Linked DNA regions of Homo sapiens: region 1 is linked to region 2. The links come from fine-mapping of genetic effects on gene expression. A gene starts in region 2. The other region holds a variant in brackets. All regions are shown on one strand. Distances are between the middles of the regions. Region 1 overlaps RSBN1 (round spermatid basic protein 1). Region 2 holds the start of RSBN1 (round spermatid basic protein 1).

Region 1 (5,385 bases), 36 kb after region 2:
AAAAAGATTGGGGCCAGGCTTGGTGGCTCACACCTGTACTCCTAAAACTTTGGGAGGCCAAGGCGGGTGGATCACTTGAGGTCAGGAGTTCAAGACCAGCCTGGCCAACGTGTTGAAACCCCATCTCTACTAAAAAAATACAAAAATTAGCCAGGCATGGTGGCGCACACCTGTAATTCCAGCTACTTGGGAGGCTGAGGGAGGAGAATTGCTTGAATTGGGAGGTGGAGGTTGCAGTGAGCTGAGATCATGCCATTGCACTCCAGCCTGTGGGACAAAGAGTGAAACTCCATCTCAAAAAAAAGGAAAAAAAAAAAAAAAAGATTGGCCTGTCTTGGTAACAGTGAGCCTCGTATCCTGGTATCTGGGCTAAAGTGAAGACTTTGAAGCTAGGGAGTACAAAATGAACATGGAAGATTAATATGACTATGGTCTTTTTTTCTCCCTGCCCTGATGATTTTACTTTTATATGTTTTTTTCTTAAATAAAGATCACACTCTAAAATATTACAAAGTTAAAAAAATCATTTTTAGAGAAGTTTAAGTATTAAATAGATATTAATGTCTTCAATGTTTCTTTGAGATCTTCAGGTTAAATCACACATTGAAATTTGCTTGTGGCATATGTATTAGTGTATTTGTCAGTGTGCTTGGGTGCCTCTCTGACTTTATTCAAGGTATTGACCATTCAGTTCTTAGTTTGTAGAAGAAATGGCAACGTTGGAAACAATAACCTATTTTAATTCTTTAATTATATTATAGTTGTACCTCAGTCCATTTTTCCCTCTTTTGTTTTATCTTAGGTCAACAGGACATACTGCTGTGGCACCTACCGAGCAGGTCCTATGCGGCAGATAAGTCTCGTTGGAGCAGTAGATGAAGAAGTTGGTGATTATTTCCCAGAGTTCCTTGATATGTTAGAAGAATCACCATTTCTGAAAGTGAGTGTTAATTAAGATTATTAAAGTTTTGATCTTTACTTAAGTGGGCACTTTATATGTTGAAGAGTATTTAGCTAATATTGCCTATTGAAATTAAATTTATCCAGTGTTTTGCACAGAAATGTTTAGATAGAATAATATTAGTACAAAGTACTTAAATTCAATTATTCTTTTTAATATAAATTACTATGTAAATAGCATTTATTTCTTTATATACAGTTGTAAAAAAGCCTTCTTAGAACTTTTATTTGGGTGGGAGGATTAACTTATAAATCATTGAAACAATTTTTTAATGTGACTAATCCGTCTGATTTCTAGATGACTTTGCCCTGGGGTACACTTTCTAGCCTCCGACTCCAGTGTAGGTCCCAGAGTGATGATGGGCCTATAATGTGGGTAAGGCCAGGAGAACAGATGATCCCTACAGCAGATATGCCAAAGTCACCCTTCAAAAGACGACGGTAAATATTTCTTTTTCTCAAATAAGCAAAACTACTTTTTTTTAGTTGGTTGCTTATAAAAATGAGCACAGTTTGAAAACCATTTGTCTTGGGCTCCCTTAAGTAAATGTTTTAGTTGTCGGTTCCTCTTTTCAGTCCAATCATCACAGTTATCACAGTGAGGCATTTTTCTAAAACACAAATTTAATTTTTACTTATTTTTTAAAAACCTGTGCCCTAACTGCCTGCAGGATAAAAGATCAAACCCCTTAGTGTGGTTTACATTAATAATCAGGTCAACTGTACCTCTTCTAGATGTATCTGTGTTTAGTCTTCTCCGGCCATACCGAATTCACTTTCCAAACCATAGTCTATCATAACTCTTTGCTTTTGCACTATTTTTTTTTTTTTTTTTTTTTTGAGATAGGGTCTCACTCTGTTGCCCAGAGCTAGAGTGCAGTGGTACAATCATAGCTCACTGTATTCTTGAACTTCTGGTCTCAGGAGAGCCTCCCAAGTAACTGTGGCTATAGGTGTGTACCACCATGCCCATCTGATTAAAAAAATTGTTTTGTGTATTTTATTTTTGTAGAGATGGGGTCTCACCATATTGCCCAGGTTGGCTTTGAACTCCTGGCCTCAAATGATCCTCCTGCCTCAGCCTCCCAAAGTGCTGGGGTTACCGTCCCACAGCAAACTTAATACATTTTCAAAACTTAGCTTGAGCTGGGCACAGTGGCATATGCCTTTAGTCCTAGCTACCTGGTAGGCTGAAGTAGGAGGATCAGTTGAGCCCAGGACTCCACGACAAGATCCTGACTCAAACCCAAACCAAAACCAAACAAAACTTAACTTGGACGTCACCTCCTTTGTGAAGTTTTTCTTTCCTTCCTTAGGTAATTAATTGTTCCCTACAATGTTCTGTTCATTAAAGTTTTGTTTACATGTTTTTATTTTCTACTAACATTTGAGGTGTGCTTTGGGAAGACAGGGACTATTTTATTCATCTTTGTCCTCATGACATATACTAGGTAACCAGTATTTGCTACATGAAACCAATAATGTTCTATAGGACCGAGCCTCAGTAATTCATATTGTGCTAACATGTTTTGTGTTTCAGACTTT[G/T]AAGACAAATGTAGATTAACTCACTCTCTAGTACTTTGAAAAATCTAATTTAATGAGACTGAAAATGATCTATACCTGCTTAGACTACGAAAATAGCAATTCAAAATAAGTGCCCAGAAGTGAGTTTTAATGGACTAATCTAAACCTTAACTTAAGGCTCATAGGAGAATGATACTTGAGCTAAGTATGGAATAATCTTAGGTACTTGAAATGTATGAAAATACTTTGAAAACATTATGTACGATGCAGGGTGGTGGCATGGTAAAAACCCAGGAGTCATTTGAAAGTTCTGCACATTGCTAGATTATAGCAGTTTTTGTTGCAGGATGATGACGAATCTTGAAATCTTATTAAATTGTTAAATACTATATACATTTTTTGTTCTGTAATCTTTCCTCAAAAAATGACCATCATTTGTTTCCTGATTTTTATAAACTTAAGAAAAAAGTAATAGGAAAGAGTAAAAAGAGGGCAGGTGCAGTGGCTCACACCTGTAATCCCAGAACTTTGGGAGGCTGAGGCAGGCAGATTGCTTGAGTCCAGGAGTTCAAGACCAGCCTGGGCAACATGACAAAACCCTGTCTCTAGTAAAAATACAAAAATTAGTGTGGTGGCACGCTCCTGTAATCCTAGTTACTGAGGTGGTTGAGGCATGAGAATCGCTTGAACTCAGGAGGCCGAGGTCGCAGTGAGCTGAGATGGTGCTTCTGCACTCCAGCCTGGACGACAGAGTAAGACTCATCTCAAAAAGAAAAAAAAAAAGAAGAGTAGAAAGAAGGCAGGCTGGGCATGGTGGCTCACACCTGTAATCCCAGCACTTTGGGAGGCCAAGGCAGGCGGATCACCTGAGGTCAGGAGTTCGAGACCATCCTGGTCAACATGGTGAAACCCCATCTCTACTAAAAATACAAAAATTAGCTGGGCATGGTGGCAGCCGCCTGTTATCCCAGCTACTCGGGAGGCTGAGGCAGGAGAATTGCTTGAACCTGGGAGGCGAAGGTTGCAGTGAGCCGAGATTGTGCCACTCCACTCAAGCCTGGGGGACAAGAGCAAGACTTCATCTCCAAAAAAAAAAAAAAGGTAGCCACCATTTAGGCATATTAACCTTTCAAATTATATATAGCCATAAATAATCTTTTTACAAAATCCATTCTTTGTGTGATGTTTACTTTAAAACTTGGGAATTTTTACTGTATGGTTGTATCAAGATTTATTTAACCAATTCTTGGTTTTTGTTTTTGTTTTTTCTTTGAGACAGGGTCTTACTCTGTCACCTAGGCTGGAGTGCAGTGGCATGATCAGGGCTCACTGTAGCCCATCTCCCAGGCTCAAGTGATCCTCCCACCTCAGCCCCACCAAGTATCTGGGACTACAGGTGCCTGCCACCATGCCTGGCTAGTTGTTTTTTGTTGTTGTTGTTGTTGTTTTTGAGACAGAGTCTTGCTCTGTCACCCAGGCTGGAGTGCGGTGGTGCGATCTCGGCTCACTGCAAGCCCCTCCTCCCGGGTTCACACCATTCTCCTGCTTCAGCCTCCCAAGTAGCTGGGACTACAGCCTCCCGCTATGATGCCCGGCTAATTTTTTTTTTTATTTTTAGTAGAGATGGGGTTTCAACGTGTTAGCCAGGATGGTCTCGATCTCCTGACCTCGTGATCCACCCGCCTCGGCCTCCCAAAGTGCTGGGATTACAGGCGTGAGCCACCGTGCCTGGCCTGTTGTTTTTTTTAATTTTAATTAAAAAAGAGTTGGCCCTCACCAACTCTTTATTAGTGTAATTTTTTCCCAGGTTTTCAATGTAAACAGTATTTTGAAAACATGATACTGGTGTGCTGGAGCCAGTTTGTACCTGTTCACAAAGGCCATCATTAGCATCACTTTCCAGTTCCACATTGCGTGATGTCACGTTAGTAACTGGAAATCATTCGTGTTAGGTGTATTTATACCATAGAAATCAGCAAATCAGCTAAAATCAGCCACCTCCCCTGACCCTCAAGTCAGATGTAAAGTATATAGAGCATACCACTGATTGTATATGGATGGAAGTTTGGTAGATATGTATGTTTGTGCATATGCGTGTTTGTTTTCTTTTTTTTTAATATTTTTTGAGATGGAGTCTCACTGTGTTGCCAGGCTGGGGTGCAGTGGCGCGATCTCGGCTCACTGCAACCTCCGCCTCCCGGATTCAAATGATTCTCCTGCCTCAGCCTCCCGAGTAGCTGGGACTACAGGCATGCACCACCATGCCCAGCTAACTTTTGTATTTTTAGTAGAGACGGGGTTTCACCATGTTGGCTAGGATGGTCTCGATCTCTTGACCTTGTGATCCTTCTGCCTCAGCCTCCCCAAGTGCTGGGATTACAGGCGTGAGCCACTGCACGTGGCCATGCGTGTTTATATTCTTAGTAAAAATTCCTAAAGTCTCAAAGTATACACATTTCTAATGGGCTTCCAGAAATATACCAATTTATATACCCACTCATATAATACAGTTCCCTTTTTCTCATACTCTCCACTAACATTTTAAACTATATTGATCTGATTGGATAAAAATGTCCCATTTTATTTTATTTTAAAAAATTGTTTTAGACAGAGTCTTGCTCTGTCACCCAGGCTGGAGTGCAGTGGTGCGATCTTGGCTCACTGCAACCTCTGCCTCCCGGGTTCAAGTGATCTCATGCCTCAGCCTCCCAGGTAGCTGGGATTACTGGCGTGCACCACCACCACTGGCTAATATTTGTATTTTTAGTAAAGAGGGGTTTCGCCATATTGGCCAGGCTCGTCCCAAACACCTGGCCTCAAGGGATCTAGCCACTTCGGCCTGCCAAAGTGCTGGGATTTCAGGCGTGAGCCACCACGCCCAACCCAAAAATGTCTCATTTT
Region 2 (5,385 bases):
GCCAGTTATTTTTATTTTCTTTTACTTTTCTACATAAACATAAACTTCAAAAGGTTTGTAAGATTTGGATCTCAACTAATTTCTACATTGCCAGAATATACTATAAAAAGTTAAAAAAAAAACTTACTTTGTGGGTTGCAATACAAACTGCTCTTGACAATGACTATTCCCTGACAGTTATTTTTGCCTAAATGGAGTATACCTTGTAAATCTTCCCAAATGTTGTGGAAAACTGGAATATTAAGAAAATGAGAAATTATATTTATTAGAATAAAATGTGCAAATAATGACAATTATTTGAATGTAACAAGGAATTCAACTGAAATCCTGATAAGTTTTAACCAAAGTCATTAAATTACCAATTCTAGAAAAGTAATCAATGAAATATAATAGCTATCTTTTGGTAGCAAAAGATATAAATTGTATATGTTTATACAGGATCTTTCAGATCATGTGCAATTTTTATCTAACCAATCAGAAATACTAGTTTAAAATGAATTTCTATATGAATATGGATCTGCCATAAGAAAATCTAGTTCAACTCTAATTTTATGTAGTAAATAAATTGGCAGGTAATTGTTTTTACAAAGAATCCACCTGACTTCCCCTAATGCATTAAAAATATTTTTATTTAAATAACTTTATTTATAACTTTTAGAAACATGTAGTATTGTTTAAACATCATTTGTTCTTCAGTATTTTTCATTTGGAAGTCCAATAGGGCAAATTGAATGAAGTATTATTATCTGTCTCTTGTAGTACAATGTATCCAACAGACACTCAATAAACTTTTTGGTTGTTAAACTGACTTCATTGCAGTAGTGTTTAGGTAATACTTCTCCAGAAACTAGTGAAATCAAACCACAGTAATTTTATCTGCTGAGTATATATCATTGTAATCAATTACTTCCAAATGTCTTTATCAATAAACAAATATACTAAAAGAATTCTAGGTAACCATGAGTTACTTAGGGCACCATGAGTGCATCTGTAGACCCAGCTACTCATTCCTTGAGCCCAGGAGTTGGAGGCCAGCCTGGTCAACAGAGCGAGACCTTGTCTCTTTTTTTTAAGAGTCAGGGTCTAGATCTGTCACCCAGGCCAGAGTGCAGTGGTGCGACCACTCCTCCCACCTTAGCCTCACGAGTACCTGGGACTACAGGCGCGTGTCACGACACCCAGATAATTTAAAAAATACTTTTGTAGGGACAGAGGCTCACTATGTTACCAACGCTGATCTGGAACTCCTGGCCTCATGCAATCCTCCCGCCTCGGCCTCCCAAAGCTCTGGGATTACCGGCCTGAGACACCGAGCCCCGCCCCGCCCGTCTCTAAATAAATACTTAAAAGAACCCCAGGTAAAAGCTAAAGCGAGGATGAAATTCTAAATGAATTTCTGAGCAACAACTATCCGTAGTGAGCAGTGATGATTTTTGGTGTGTTCTCCGGTAGGCACACTTTTCAAATTTATGCAATCTTATCCTTAAGATTTGAAAAAAAAAAACTTATAAAAAATCTTAAACGTGGTTTTCCATCTACAATTTTTCGCAACTGTAGGGATATATTCAAAATAAATGCTGGACATTTCCAGGCATTAGAGGGGATGTGGCCGGATGGCGAGGAGGGGCCGTCCTCACCAGGACTCCAAGCAGTTCTCGCACCTGACTTCGTAGGCCTGTAGTTGTAACCATAGCAATGCCCCAGATGCTTGAAAACATTTCTGAATTGCGGCCCTATCATATTTTTACAGCAAAACCACCCTTATTTTACATATTACTAAATCCTCTTTTCACCTTCATTTCATCCCTCGTCAAAGTTAAAAGGATGAAGATTCTTTTATCTCACAAAGGTTATGAGAGAAATATTAAATTTAAAATCACTGTGGAGACCACCTCCTCCGTGTAAAATGAGGAAGGGTCACAGGAAGATGATAATGGGAACGCGCCGCCAGACTCTGAAAGCCATTAACATTGTTTCGGCCGTTAGGGCGGTTGGCGGCAACTCACCGCCCAGCGGCGGTTGCGTCGCAGCCAGAAGCGTGACTTCGCGCACGCTCCCTTTCCACTCCTCCACTCAGAGCCGGGGACGCGGCGGGGGCGCGGCGGAACTACAGCTCCCATGACGCTTTGCGCGGCATAGGGTGCTTTACAATAGAAGCTCGGTTGGAGAGGCCTGCGGAGAAAAGCTGGGAACGGCCGCTTCCGGCATGTTCATCTCTGGACGAAGAACGGCCGACAAGTGGAGGGCGGAGGAGAGACTCCAATGCCCAGCGGGCAGTGCGCGGGCGGCGCTTGCGCGATGCGCGGACGGGGGGGCGGTCGGGCCATTTAAATGTGTGTTTGTGGGTGAAATGGCTGCGCAGGTCGGAGCGGTGCGCGTAGTACGGGCGGTGGCGGCGCAGGAGGAGCCGGACAAAGAGGGGAAGGAGAAACCTCATGCTGGGGTCTCCCCGCGGGGAGTTAAACGGCAGCGCCGATCTAGCAGTGGGGGGTCTCAGGAGAAGCGGGGGCGGCCGAGCCAGGAGCCCCCTCTCGCTCCCCCTCACCGGCGGCGTCGCAGCCGCCAACATCCTGGGCCGCTGCCGCCAACGAATGCAGCCCCAACTGTCCCAGGCCCTGTTGAGCCTCTTCTCCTGCCGCCTCCGCCGCCACCTTCGCTGGCACCCGCCGGGCCCGCTGTCGCTGCCCCTCTCCCGGCCCCAAGCACCTCGGCCCTCTTCACCTTCTCGCCTCTGACGGTGAGCGCGGCCGGGCCCAAGCATAAGGGCCACAAGGAGCGGCACAAGCACCATCACCACCGCGGCCCCGATGGTGATCCCAGCTCCTGCGGAACCGATCTCAAGCACAAGGACAAGCAGGAAAACGGCGAGAGGACTGGAGGGGTGCCTCTGATCAAAGCCCCCAAGAGAGGTGAGAGCAGGCAAACTGCCCGGCTTGGGTTCTAGGTCTCTCTCAGTTCCGATATCCCGCATCTTTAGGACTGAAAGACGCCAAACCCCTGCTTACCTTCTGCTGCTGTACTTCTCTAAGCTCACTGGGGTGGACCCTGGATTTCAGATCGTTGACACGGTTTGATCTAACTACTTGAGGCTTCTCGCTCCGAGGCCGAGCTGTCAGTTGCTAATCCCTTTACCGGTCCCCCGGAGCCTCTCAGCATTTGTTTTCAAATTCTGCAAGGTTTCCGCGCCGCGTTAGATTAGTAGGTGGGGTACTAAAAAATGCCTTTCCAAAGAAAAGGCATGTTCCTAAAATCCCTTCTCCTTGTTTTGCTTGCTGGAGAGCTTTAGTTATCTGCTCTCCCTTGCTCCAGAATAGTCAGGGGTATGGTTCCAGTCTTTCAGGAGGGAATTCATATAAAGGTTACACGACTCACTGGTTGACTTAGCTTCTGCAAGGTAAAATATCAGACGCAGTTTATCTTGGTTCTTTTTAATCTAGAGGTAAAAATCATTTTAAAGTTTTCATATTAGCTATTTAAATTCTTAGAATAGGCATGTGGAAGGTTTTCTCTACCCTTTGATACTAGGAAATAGGACCAACAGTGCCTCTGAAAAGTGGGAATTTGTGCAGTAGATAGTAGAGGCCGGAATTTCAGTTGCATTTGATTCTGTCTAGCACACTTTGTGGATCTGTTAATTCCAATAGCCCTCAAGAATATTTTACTAGAAAATGTCAGAGTATCCAATTAAATGTGGATTCTAGAAAAATTAGATTGGCCAGAACTGATGTCTTCCTGTTCCCAAGTACCTGTAGCATTTATTTATATTCTTTGTGGAAGAAATGTGATGCTTTTGATTATGCCGTATGTTTGTACTTTATATATTATTTTATATAATTTACTAGTTGTTTTTCCTCAGGAATATTTGAAATACTTGTTTCTTAGTACTGGACCAGTTAGGTTATTACATGTTAATGAGACAATCTTTCAACCTAAAGTTTTGTGAGTCTTGCATTCTTTCCACGTATTGAGTCTTAAGGCTAATCATTTTTTTTGGTGGTGCTATTTCCGAATACTGTAGTTCGTTGCAAATAATTGCTCAATAAGTATTTATTGAATAGCATTAAATTTTTATTCATTTGGTGGCATCCAAATCTTGGGAGTAGAACTTGTGGCAAGATGACAGGACTGCCAGTTTTCACCACCAATATGCAATGATCTTGCTCTCTTTTTATTTTTACTTTTATTCCCTACTTTCTCATTTCTTGTGTGTGTGTGTGTGTGTGTGTGTGTGTGTTTTAACTGTACAGAACTAGAGGGAATTAGTGATCCTCTGGCTTAAATTTGTATTGTAGAAAAGGAAACTGAGGCCCAAAGTAGTAAAGAGGCCTGTTCAATCAAATCACAGTTAATTCGCATGAAGTGCAAAAAAATTAAATATTTTTTAAAAAGGTGAATATTGGCATAACAGGCAGTAGAACCCAGGCTCCTGAATCCTGCTTCAAGCTTCATCTCCAGGCTTCATGATGTTGCTTTCTCTTCCTGCTATTCATTTTTTCCACTCCTTTGTTTACCTTTTCCCTGTGCTTTGACATTACAGTGGCTTTATATCATCGAGGATCTCTGACCTGGCCCCGTTTTATGGGGGATAGTGGCAATAACATGTGTAATAATTTACAATCTTTCTCTGAAGATTGCACAGGCCCCATGTTCTTTAAAAAACACACTTCTGACCTAATGCTGACTGATAGAACTTTCTCAGATGATGGAAATTTTCTGTATTTGTGCTGACCAATATGGTAGCCGTATGTGGTTCCTGAACAGACTTGAAATGTGGCATGATTGAGGAACTGAAATTTTGATTTTATTTAATTCTAATTAATTTATAATTAGTCACATATGGCTAGTGGCTACCACACTGGACAACACCACTCTAAATATCTGTAGTTTGCCAACATGTGAAGAAGAGAAGTGGGTTAAGATAAGCCCATTTAAACATTTTAACTTTTGGCTGAGAGATTGTTGGATTATATACCCAAACTATATTTTGGGTGAAAAAGAATTTTTTGGTCAAATACATTTGAGAAAAACTGTGTACTGTAGCCTTCTACATATGTAACATGAATTGGCAAACTGGCATTTTAAAAGTTTTGAAAACCCTACAGAAAATAAACTGGTTTAACTTTGTTTAATCCAGGCTTTTGCACATAGTTTGACTGATATCTTTTTTGTCCTCTGAACATCTTTATTGTTACAGTGGTATGCAGGAGGCATGCCTCTGGTATTAATCTGAGTTTAAATCATGGCTCTAACACTTACTGTGTGAGCCTGAACAAATTGCTTTACCCTCTCTCAACTGCACTTTTCCTGTCTATAAAATGGGGTTGTGGTATTTCATTTATAAGGAACTTGTGTGGATTAAATAGGGCATTGTGTGAAAGTACTTAC

The links. PIP is the estimated chance that this variant, and not a neighbour inherited with it, causes the effect.
Region 1: its variant is the best candidate, but not a certain one, in a credible set for the expression of RSBN1 in T cells (TOPMed, PIP 0.87).

Annotation. Positions count from the first base shown.
Region 1 is chr1:113,773,226-113,778,610 of GRCh38, reverse strand. It overlaps RSBN1 (round spermatid basic protein 1), which reads left to right. Exons shown (of 7, transcript NM_018364.5): 3 at 803-940; 4 at 1,259-1,401. Among named protein-coding and RNA genes, the nearest start is that of PHTF1, 16 kb to the right of the region's middle. The variant G/T (reference allele first, on the strand shown) is at 2,506.
Region 2 is chr1:113,809,234-113,814,618 of GRCh38, reverse strand. RSBN1 (round spermatid basic protein 1) reads left to right here and starts at 2,143. Exons shown (of 7, transcript NM_018364.5): 1 at 2,143-2,909. The coding sequence starts at 2,207. PTPN22 (protein tyrosine phosphatase non-receptor type 22) reads left to right here. Exons shown (of 21, transcript NM_015967.8): 21 at 1-808. AP4B1-AS1 (AP4B1 antisense RNA 1) reads right to left here and starts at 2,007. Exons shown (of 5, transcript NR_125965.1): 1 at 1,794-2,007; 2 at 128-232. RefSeq lists enhancers at 1,743-2,272, 2,009-2,398, 2,273-2,802, 2,779-2,868, 3,019-3,078 and 1 more.